3 linked regions of the Homo sapiens genome follow. The protein of the gene in region 3 interacts with the protein of the main gene of each other region in a pairwise test. Each region holds a gene or a part of one and is shown on either strand. Other genes may lie near its edges.

Region 1 (2,799 bases), on a different chromosome or scaffold from region 3:
CTCAAGCGATCCTCCCACCTCAGCCTCCCAAGTAGCTGGGACTACAGGCATGCAGAATTATGCCCAGCTAATTTTTGTATTTTCTGCAGAGATGAGGTTTTGCTGTATTGCCAAGGCTGGTCATGAACTCCTGGGCTCAAGCAACGCACCCACCTAGGCTTCCCAAAATGCTGGGATGACAGGTGTGAGCCACGGTGCCTGGCCTCAAAAAAATATCCTGATGGCTTCGTGCCTCCCTGTCTGTACCCTAGTCCTGGCCCTGGTGCAGGGATATACGACAAGTTTGTGCAGATGTGTTAACACGTGTCCACATGTCTCTGTGTGCCACTCCACTTGCGGTGTTAGGGATCCAGGGGAGGTGGTCTGCAAGGGTGTGTCCTCGTAGGGGTGTGTGTGTGTCTGTGGGTCCACCACACATGCGTGGGTGACCAGGAAGTGGACCCACAGACACATGTACACCCCTGCATGTCTCTGTACCACGAGGAGTCTGTGGGTGGGTCTCTGACCTGCTCTGGGTGTCTCACGGACCCTTGGACCTGTTGGGGAAACTGACACCATCTGTAGCTCCAAGACCCCCGACACTCCCTGGGCAGGGCATGGGGCACTCAGGTGGCATATGGGGACCCACGCAGCTGGGGATGTGAGTGTGGACATGAGTTGAGTGGATGAGAGGATTAACCAGGTGCCTGGCGTACAGTAGGTGCTTAATAAGTGCTCGCTTTTTTTTTTTTTTTTTTTTTTTGAGATGGAGTTTCATTCTTGTCACCTAGGCTGGAGTGCAATGGCATGATCCCAGCTCCCTGCAACCTCCACCTCCTGGGTTCAAGTGATTCTCCCACCCCAGCCTCCCCAGTAGCTGGGATTACAGGCGTCCACCACCACGCCTGACTAATTTTTGTATTTTTTAGTAGAGACAGGTTTTTACCATGTTGGCCAGGCTGATCTCAAACTCCTGACCTCAAGTGATCCACCCACCTCGGCCTCCCAAAGTGCTGGGATTACAGGCGTGAGCCACTGAGCCGGGCCAGTGCTCACTTTTTTTTTTTTTTTTTTGAGACAGAGTCTCACTCTGTCACCCAGGCTGGAGTGCAGTGGCGTGATCTCGGCTCACTGCAAGCTCTGCCTCCTGGGTTCACGTCATTCTCCTGCCTCAGCCTCCTGAGTAGCTGGGACTACAGGCGCCCGCCACCACACCCGGCTAATTTTTTGGTTGTTTTTTTTTTTAGTAGAGAAGGGGTTTCACTGTGTTAGCCAGGATGGTCTCAAACTCCTGACCTCGTGATCCGCCCACCTCGGCCTCCCAAAGTGCTGGGATTACAGGTGTAAGCCACTGCACCCGGCCAGTGCTCACTTTTTATCTGCATGCATGAGTGTTTGGTGGGTTACTCAGTGGGATGTGTGTGGATTCGTGCACATGCAGCATGGGGTAGCATGTCCTCTGTCGTTTCCGTTCCAGCTGAGTTTCACTCTGTCCCCAGGTGAGTTGCTACAGTGGCTGGAGAGACGACATCTGCTCCATGGGCTGGTGGCCGACAGTAATCTCACGCTGGGACCTGGCCTGCAGCCCCTGCCCCAGACCTCTCACCATCACCGCCACCACCGTGCAGCTGCCACCAACCCTGCACGCTACTGCTGCCTCAGTGGCTGTACCCAACAAGACCTGCTGACCCTCTGTCCCTACTGATTCCTCCTTGGGTGCAGCCTCAGAGTGGCCTGAGGCCCAGAGGGTCTGGTCTGGTGAGCTCCTGAGGCCACACAGCACCATAAAGTCTCGCATCTACAGGCCTTTGATTACCTCCTGGGATGGGTGCTCACTATCTACCCCAGACCAATGCCACCTGCAGCCTGTGGAGTCAACTGCAGAATAAATCACACCCTAGCCCTGGCTTGGAGGATCCCCGCTTTCACAGATGCTGGACACTGACAGCCAAATGTCCTCACTCCAGGGGAGCCCCAGACGCTCCGCTCCCTGCATGTGTAACACCCCTTCTTGCTGTCTCTTAGTAAATAAACGACCCAAAGCAGCTTCCTGCATTTTCTCTAGAAAAAGGGACAAGCCTCAGTCAGTCCCTGTGTGGGCTTGTCCCCCAGCAGCCATGGACCCACCGGCACTTCCAGGAGCTTGATAACTAGAGAGGCATTGCAACGCAAAGTGGGGAAACTGAGGCCCAGGGAGAGGGCTGCTTGCCAAGGTCAGACAGGGAAGGGTAAGTGCAGGACTTGAACCGAGGTCTCTACCAAGGCCCATGGGAGTCCTTAGCATTGAGGACTTAGAATGGTAGACATTAGACACAAAACAAATGTCAGAAAATGATCATCACAAAACACATTAGTCTTTTTTTTTTTTTTTTTTTTTGAGGCAGGGTCTCACTCTGTCACCCAGGCTGGAGTGCAGTGGCACAATCATAGCTTACTGCAGCCTCCAACTCCTGGGCTGAAGTGATCCTCCCACTTCAGCCTCCTAAGTAGCTGGGATTACAGGCACCCGCCACCACACCCAGCTAATTTTTGCATTTTTAGTAGAGACGGGGTTTCACCATGTTGGCCAGGCTGGTCTTGAACTCCTGAACTCAGGTGATCCGCCCACCTCGGCCTCCCAAAGTGTTGAGATTACAGGCATGAGCCACGTGCCTGGCCCAGTCATCGGATTTAGGGTCCACCCTAATCCATGATAACCTCATGTCTGTCTATAAAGACCCTATTTCCAAATAAGCCCATATTCTGAGGTGAATTCTCAGAATATGAATTCTCAGAATATGAATATGAATTCTCAGACATGAATTCTTGCCAGACACTACT
Region 2 (3,429 bases), on a different chromosome or scaffold from region 3:
TGCCATGAGGGAGACCCAGGCATTGGGACCAGGGGCACTGGACAGGTGTGGTCAGTGTGGCAACAGATGGCTGGCTGGGACTTTAGTGAGCAGAAACCTCCTTTGAACTTTTAGCTTCTGCCCCTTGAGCAAAGCACACGTGTCTGGCTCTCCCGCCCCAGCCTGAGGTAAGGAGCCAAGAGCCCAAGACGTGAGATGGGAGGATCCTGCTTCCCTCACCGCTGTGCCTCCCTCCATCTCCAGAGGGGGTCTGCTAGGATGCAAGGGCCCCTGTGAACTCAGAAGCGAGTGGCAAAAGGTGGTAGGTGTCTTGGATTGGAGAGGGTATTCATTTGGGGAGCTTGCATCCCCATAAAGGAGGAGGAGGAGGCCTGGGGTCTGTTGGAAGTGACTGGAGGATGTGTTGAAGGCAGCTCTCCAAGCCAGAGCCCCTTCCTCAGCTACAGCCACAGTGATACCTCTCCCCATGCCCCCATCACCCAGGTTCCTGTCTCCTCTCAAGGTGGAAGGGGCAGGTGAAGACTGCAGACAGGGAAGATGCCCTGCCAGAAGCCCAGCTGCACTTTCACCAGTTCCTACTCCATCCAGGCGAGAGGCCCCAAGTAGTCTAAATTTCTTTCTTTCTTTCTTTTTTATATGGAGTCTCGCTCTGTTGCCCAGGCTGGAGTGCAGTGGTGCGATCTCGGCTCACTGCAACCTCTGCCTCCTGGGTTCAAGGAATTCTCCTGCCTCAGCCTCCCTGGTAGTTGGGATTACAGGCACGTGCCACCATACCCAGCTAAATTTTGTATTTTTAGCAGAGACAGGGTTTTGCCATGTTGGCCAGGCTGGCCTCAAACTCTTGATATCAGGTGATCTGCCTGCCTCAGCCTCCCAAAGTGCTGGGATTACAGACGTGAGCCACCACGGCTGGCCAAGTTGTCTAAATTTCCATCTCGGCTCCTGGCTTAGAACCACCCAGAGTGGCCACTGACGGCTCCTTGCCCTCTAGGAAGGACATGATGCCCTGCTTTCGGCTGCGGAGGGCCAGTTGCAGGGGTGTGCAGCTCACTCCATCCTGGACGTCCAGCTGGGCGCCTGCCTCGACCAGCACTTTGAGGATGGCTGTGTTGCCCTTGAGGGCGGCCAGGTGGGCGGGTGTCCAGCCCACCTTGTTGCGGGCGTGGACATTTGCGTGATGTTCTAGGAGGTTGATGACACTCAGGAAGGTGCTCCTCTGGACCGCCAGGTGGAGGGGTGTCCAGCCTGACTGCTCTGCAGCATTGGGGTCAGCCCCACACTGCAGCAGTGCTGACACCACCGCCTCCTCCCCGTGGCGTGCAGCTAGGTGCAGGGGAGTCCAGTTCACAGCTCCAAGAGCACCCATGTTTGCGTGGCTCTCTGCCAGCAGATGGATGATCTCCAGGTGGCCCTTGTAGGCTGCTAGATGCAGGGGTGTCCAGCCCTGGTGGGTGGGCAGCTCAAGGCTGGCTCCGTACCTGAGCAGCATCTTGCAGATCAGGTATTTGCCCCTGGCAGCTGCAGTGTGCAGTGGGCCGTAGCCGCTCTGGTCAAGGGCATCAGGGACCGCTCCACTCTTCAGCAGGTGTTGGATGGCCCTCACTTTGCCCCGCTCTACTGCCAGGTGCAGTGGTGTTCTCAGGTTTCTCTGCTGAGCATCCAACTCAGCCCCCTGGCTGGTCAGCAGCTTGACCAGGCTAACATGGCCAAAGTAGGCGGCCACATGGAGGGGGGTCTTGCCCTCAGCCTCATGCAGGTTGGGGTCAGCCTGACGGGAGACCAGAAGCCGTGCCACATTCTCAAAGTTATTCTGTGCAGCCAGGTGAAGAGGGGTCCACCCTTCACGTTCCTGGGCATCCACACAGGCCCCGTGGTCCAGGAGCAGGCGCGCAGTGCCGTCATCCCCATTCTGGGCTGCAAAGTGCAGTGGGGCCCAGCCATCCTCATCCACTCGGTTGGCATCAGCACCATGTGCCAAAAGCAGGGCACAGAGGTCGGGTTGCTGGTCCTGGGCGGCGATCAGGAGGGGCGTGTATCCAGAGGCCGTCTGGCAGTCCACGTCTACCTCGTGGGCCAGCAGCAACCTCACCTGCTCCACACTGCCCTGGGCCACCAGGAAGTGGAGGGGGGTGACCTTGTTCTCATAGATACACAGTTCCTCATCTCTCGGGACCAAATTCTTACGGTCGGAGAGCTGAAGGGCCCGCTTCAGGTAGTTTCCTGAGTCTGCTGGGAGAAAGATGGGGTTGAAAAAAAAGACCTGTGACCCGTCCAGAGGTCATCATGGCCATCCCCCTGCCTCCTGGAAGTACCATCCAGGAACAGAGGCTAGAGCAGTAAGGGCAATGCCTTTCCTAAGCATGGCTCTCTACACAGCCATAAATGTTACTATTCAAGTTCAGGCTCGGTCGTCCTGGAGAGCTGAGTCCTGCAGTCCTTTCCTCACAGGTGAGGCAGAAAGAGCAGTGGGCTCAGGAGGCCCGAGTGCAAATCCTGATTTCACTCCTCAGCATCCCCCGACCTTAGCCAATTCACTGCCTCTTTGAGCTTCCATATCTGGATCAGATATGGAAGAGGGGACAAACAATGATCAGTTCATTCTACCATTGGAAGGACAAATTATATAGGTAAAAACTTTCAGTGGAGGACCTGAGGGAAAGTAAGCAATTCTAAGTTGGAAATAAACTTGTGGTTGGAGTTCTATGATCTAAACTCCCCTCTGAGGTCTTAAGGATCAACATCCTTCTGCTCTACCCAGTGGAGTATGAGAATTAAAATGACAAAAATGATCACTACCCAGGCCTAACCCTCACAGATTCTGGTTTAATTAGTCTAGGGTGTGCCCAAGGCAAAGCTTTTTTTTTTTTTTTTTTTTAATTTCCCGAGCAATTCTAACATGCAGCCAGCCTTGAGAACCAATGCTCCACCTTTCAGGTCAGGAAAGGGAAAATTCCGTCTTGCAAGGACACAGACTTGAAAGGGAGGCAGCCAGGCTCCCTGAGGGCATGTGCTTTCTGAACATGCAGCTGGGTGCTGGAAAAGGGCACCTAAACCCTGGATGTGTGATAGGCCTGGGGATGAGGGGGAGGCCAGGGGGATGGGGAAAGGGTGTGGTTTGACTCCATTTTCTCTGCTGTGAGTTCTCTGGTCCCGCCCGTGGCACCCAGACTCACCACTGTCCATCAGTTCCTGGCTGATGTCCTCATTAACCTGGGGAGGCATAACCAGCAGGCAGGGTGGAGATCAGTGGCGCAGTTCTAGCCTGTGCCCTCCTCCCCTCCTTCCCTCTCTCCAACCTTCCCGGTCACTGTCAGGACTCACATCCCACCCTATCCTGGGAAACCTTTATCCTTTGCCATGACTATCCCCAGCTGTCTAGAGGAAAACACTGAGCTGGAGAAACCCTCCAGAAAGAGGCAGCTCAGGGCC
Region 3 (4,104 bases):
CCAGGGCCTGGCAGGGAAGCGGGAAGAGACCAGACCTTCTTAAGGAACGGGGTGTGGGGGCTGGGAAGAATTGGAGAGGGGATCCCTGAAGAGCCCAGAGCCTTGACTCAGCTGGAGGCGGTACCATGGGTGCTGGTGCCCCCTCCTGCCCCAAGGCTGGGCAGGACCGCTGCGCGCCAGTGGAGGCCTCGGTCTGGGCTCTGTGGCTTATGCCTGTGAGACGCGGGTGGATTGCTTGAGCCCAGGAGTTGGAAACCAGCTTGGGCAACATAGAGAAACCCCATCTTAAGACAAAATCAGCTGGGGGTTGTGGTGCACTTGTGGTCCCAGCTACTCAGGAGGCTGAGGTGGGAGGATCACTTGGGGGTCGAGGCTACAGTGAGTCATGATCGCACCACTGCACTCTAGCCTGGGTGACAGAGCAAGGCCCTATCTCAAAACAAACAAACAAAAGACACCCCAACCAACCAAACACTAGAGGCCTGGGACAGGCCCACCTCTGACGTGGTCAGTTCTAGGAATCTATTCAGACGGGTCTCACTGCTAGGAGCCACCAGAGTCCTCCGGAACAAGGGCTTCAGAGTCCTGAAACCTTTCCGTGGAATACTTTAAGAAACGGTTATGAGGCCAGGCGCGACGGCTCACGCTGGTAATCCCAGGACTTTGGGAGGCCGAGGCGGGCGGATCACGAGGTCAGGAGTTCCAGACCAGCTTGGCCAACATGGCAAAACCCTGTCTCTACTAAAAACAAAACATTAGCTGGGCATGGTGGCGCGCGCCTGTCGTCCCAGCGACTTGGGAGGTTGAGGCAGGAGAATCGCTTGAACCCGGGAGGTGGAGGTTATGGTGAGCCAAGATCCCCCCCAGCTGCACTCCAGCTTGGCGACAGAGCAAGACTCCGTCTCAAAAACAAAAAACAAAGCCGGTTATGAAGCGGGGGTGGGGTGGGCTAGTTTTAATAGGTCCAGGCGATTAGTACCTGGCATCCTTAACCACCTACAGTTTGAGAAGGGAGTGGGTGATAAAAGCCTGGAAGGGAAGGGAAATCGGGCCGGGCATTAGGCTCCATCGCTCATCAATAGACAAGGCCTTTAGGAAACTGCGACAACGGCTTTTGCTCTGGGCCTTTACTGCCGAATCCAGGTCTCCGGGCTTAACAACAACGAAGGGGCTGTGACTGGCTGCTTTCTCAACCAATCAGCACCGAACTCATTTGCATGGGCTGAGAACAAATGTTCGCGAACTCTAGAAATGAATGACTTAAGTAAGTTCCTTAGAATATTATTTTTCCTACTGAAAGTTACCACATGCGTCGTTGTTTATACAGTAATAGGAACAAGAAAAAAGTCACCTAAGCTCACCCTCATCAATTGTGGAGTTCCTTTATATCCCATCTTCTCTCCAAACACATACGCAGCAGTGTTACAGCTCTTTTAGAATTTGTCTAGTAGGCTTTCTGGCTTTTTACCGGAAAGCCCCTCTTATGATGTTTGTTGCCAATGATAGATTGTTTTCACTGTGCAAAAATTATGGGTAGTTTTGGTGGTCTTGATGCAGTTGTAAGCTTGGGGTATGAAGGTTTGGGCCACGCCTGGGCGCTTCCGGCTGCGCCGGATGCTGTTTCCTTTCCGCTCCCAGGGGCGTTGGGAACGGTTGTAGGACGTGGCTCTTTATTCGTGAGTTTTCCATTTACCTCCGCTGAACCTAGAGCTTCAGACGCCCTATGGCGTCCGCCTCGACCCAACCGGCGGCCTTGAGCGCTGAGCAAGCAAAGGGTGAGAATCGTCCTAGTCAAGGCATAGGCTGCTGGCCTGGGGTAGTCAAGGCATGGGCTGCTGGTCTGGGGAGGATGCGGGCGGAGGATGTGGGGCGACAAACCTGGCTACGTCCGCCGGGAAAATGGGGTAGGGGACGCCGGGTACCGTCCTTCTAAGTGGGGCGCTTGCCCCCAAGACTTGGGATCTTATTGGGTTACCTACAGCCTCAATCCACTAATTCCTTGCGCTCTCCGCTGGGCCCGCTGTCTGTTCTCCGACGCCTACCCGGGACGCCTCCCTGGGATGCTTCTGGCGCGCAGTGGTCCTCGCGGAGGTGATCCAGGCGTTCTCCGCCCCGGAGAATGCAGTGCGCATGGACGAGGCTCGGGATAACGCCTGCAACGACATGGGTAAGATGCTGCAATTCGTGCTGCCCGTGGCCACGCAGATCCAGCAGGAGGTTATCAAAGCCTATGGCTTCAGCTGCGACGGGGAAGGTGGGTCAGACGCGGGAAGGCGGGTCAGACGCGGGAAGGCGGGAGTTGGGTCGGGAGAGGGCGCCGGATCTGTGGGCCCATGAGCGGTTGTCCCCTTTCTCGCCACACGGCGGCAGCCACAATCTGACTAACATTCTTGGCACTCAGAGCCCAGGGTCTACCCTGAGCTTGTGCGTCCGAGTTGCGTTTTGTACAGTAGAGGTTCTGTATCCCTTACCCGAAATGGTTGGGACCGGAAGTGTTTCGGGTTTTTTCAGATTTCGGAATATTTACATATACATGGATATCTTGGGGGATGGGACCTAAATCTGAACACGAAATTGTTTTGTTTCATATACACGCACCTTATGCACATAGCCTGAGGGTAATTTTATATAATAGTCTGAATAATTTTGTGCATGAGACAAAGTTTTGACTGCGTTTTGACTACAGTCTCCCCCACCCCCCACTATGAAGTCAGGTGTGGAATTTTCCATTTTCGGCCTCACACTGGCACTCATAATTTCAGATTTTGGATTTTCTAATTAAGGATGGTCAACCTGTACTGTTAATCACATTATTATTCCATTTTGTGATGAGGAAGCAAACTCTAATGGTGCAGACTCTCGAGTAGCAGAGCTGGACTTAAATGCTGTTGTGCCACCTTTTAGTGACATGTCTGCATGACAGCAGTGGCTGCAGTCTCTCCAGGGTGTTTCAGCTAATTTTTGTTTGGGGGGGGTTGGTGGTTAAATTTTTGGTGAGATCCTGGTGTTCCCCAAAGGTGTTGACTGATTCAGCTCTGCTGCCTCATAGCCTTCCTGAGTTCCAGCTACAGACCTGGGGTCTCGTGTTCATTCTTGGGGTTCCAGTGACTAAACTGCTAAAATGGTTCACCTGAGAGCAAGAAGCACACTGCCTTGGGACATTTTCATTCACTGCATCCCATCTAGTTGTGCCCAGTGTAGACCAAATGTCATCATCCAAACCACACGGGACAGAGGCCTGCATGCGTCCTGTTTGGCAAACAGCTGCCCAGCCAGTGGGGGAGCAGTTCATGCTTAGACTACCACCCCCTCCAGGTGTCTTAGGCACGCTGGTCCTTAGGAGAAGGGTTGACCTTCCACTCCCTCTTGCAGGTGTCCTTAAGTTTGCTCGCTTGGTCAAGTCCTACGAAGCCCAGGATCCTGAGATCGCCAGCCTGTCAGGCAAGCTGAAGGCGCTGTTTCTGCCGCCCATGACCCTGCCACCCCATGGGCCTGCTGCTGGTGGCAGCGTGGCCGCCTCCTGAGAGTTGGCCCTCCCTTGTGCCACTGCCAGGGGAGGAAAGGCCTTGATGTTCCAGACAATAATAAATGCGCCTGTGACTTAGCCTTGGTGTCAGTCTCTTGCGGACCTGACAACCCCCATCTCTCCTTCCCTGATTCCCTCTGCCTTTCCAGGCCCCATCCCCCTGAACAGCTCCTCCCTATGGTCCTGGCTGGGCCTAACCCTGCCCCAGGGCCTAACCCTACCTGAGGCTCCTCCCCTTCCCCCGGGGCAGGTTGAGAGGCTGGAGTGGGTCCCTCAGCGCCCTGGGTGGGTGGGCCTGCACAGGGGGTACCTCCTTCTCTGAGGAACTGGGCTGTTAGGGATTTTCCTTAGGCCCTTTGGTTTCCGCCTACGGAGAGGTTTCCCCCATTGGTTGCTCTTCCTCAGCCAGGGTTACTTCCTGGTCTGTTCCCCTACCCAATACCCCGCCGCTCTGTCAGCTTGAGCTCCAGGTGGAGCTCCAGGTGGCTCCTCCTCTCCCGGGGGAAGGCGGCCCTGGACCAGCAGGCGGGCCTGCTGTACTCCCGCTTTGGGGCTGCAGGGAAGCTGGCCGCTGTGGG

What was found.
Region 1: the proteins of C12orf57 (region 3) and INSL3 interact in binary tests that used the Homo sapiens proteins (3 or more experiments, as listed by UniProt).
Region 2: the proteins of C12orf57 (region 3) and ANKK1 interact in binary tests that used the Homo sapiens proteins (3 or more experiments, as listed by UniProt).

The regions. Positions count from the first base shown.
Region 1 is NC_000019.10:17,815,739-17,818,537, reverse strand, and holds the end of INSL3 (insulin-like 3 isoform 2 precursor), read left to right. Parts: intron 1-1,478; coding exon 1,479-1,684; 3' UTR 1,685-2,026; downstream 2,027-2,799. UniProt on the Homo sapiens protein: Seems to play a role in testicular function. May be a trophic hormone with a role in testicular descent in fetal life. Is a ligand for LGR8 receptor.
Region 2 is NC_000011.10:113,397,761-113,401,189, reverse strand, and holds the end of ANKK1 (ankyrin repeat and protein kinase domain-containing protein 1), read right to left. Parts: intron 3,211-3,429; coding exon 3,174-3,210; intron 2,230-3,173; coding exon of another isoform or gene 2,227-2,229; coding exon 923-2,226; 3' UTR 774-922; downstream 1-773.
Region 3 is NC_000012.12:6,942,399-6,946,502, forward strand, and holds C12orf57 (protein C10), read left to right. Parts: upstream 1-1,623; 5' UTR 1,624-1,723; coding exon 1,724-1,775; intron 1,776-1,981; exon of another isoform or gene 1,982-2,077; coding exon 2,078-2,254; intron 2,255-3,372; coding exon 3,373-3,524; 3' UTR 3,525-3,604; downstream 3,605-4,104. UniProt on the Homo sapiens protein: In brain, may be required for corpus callosum development.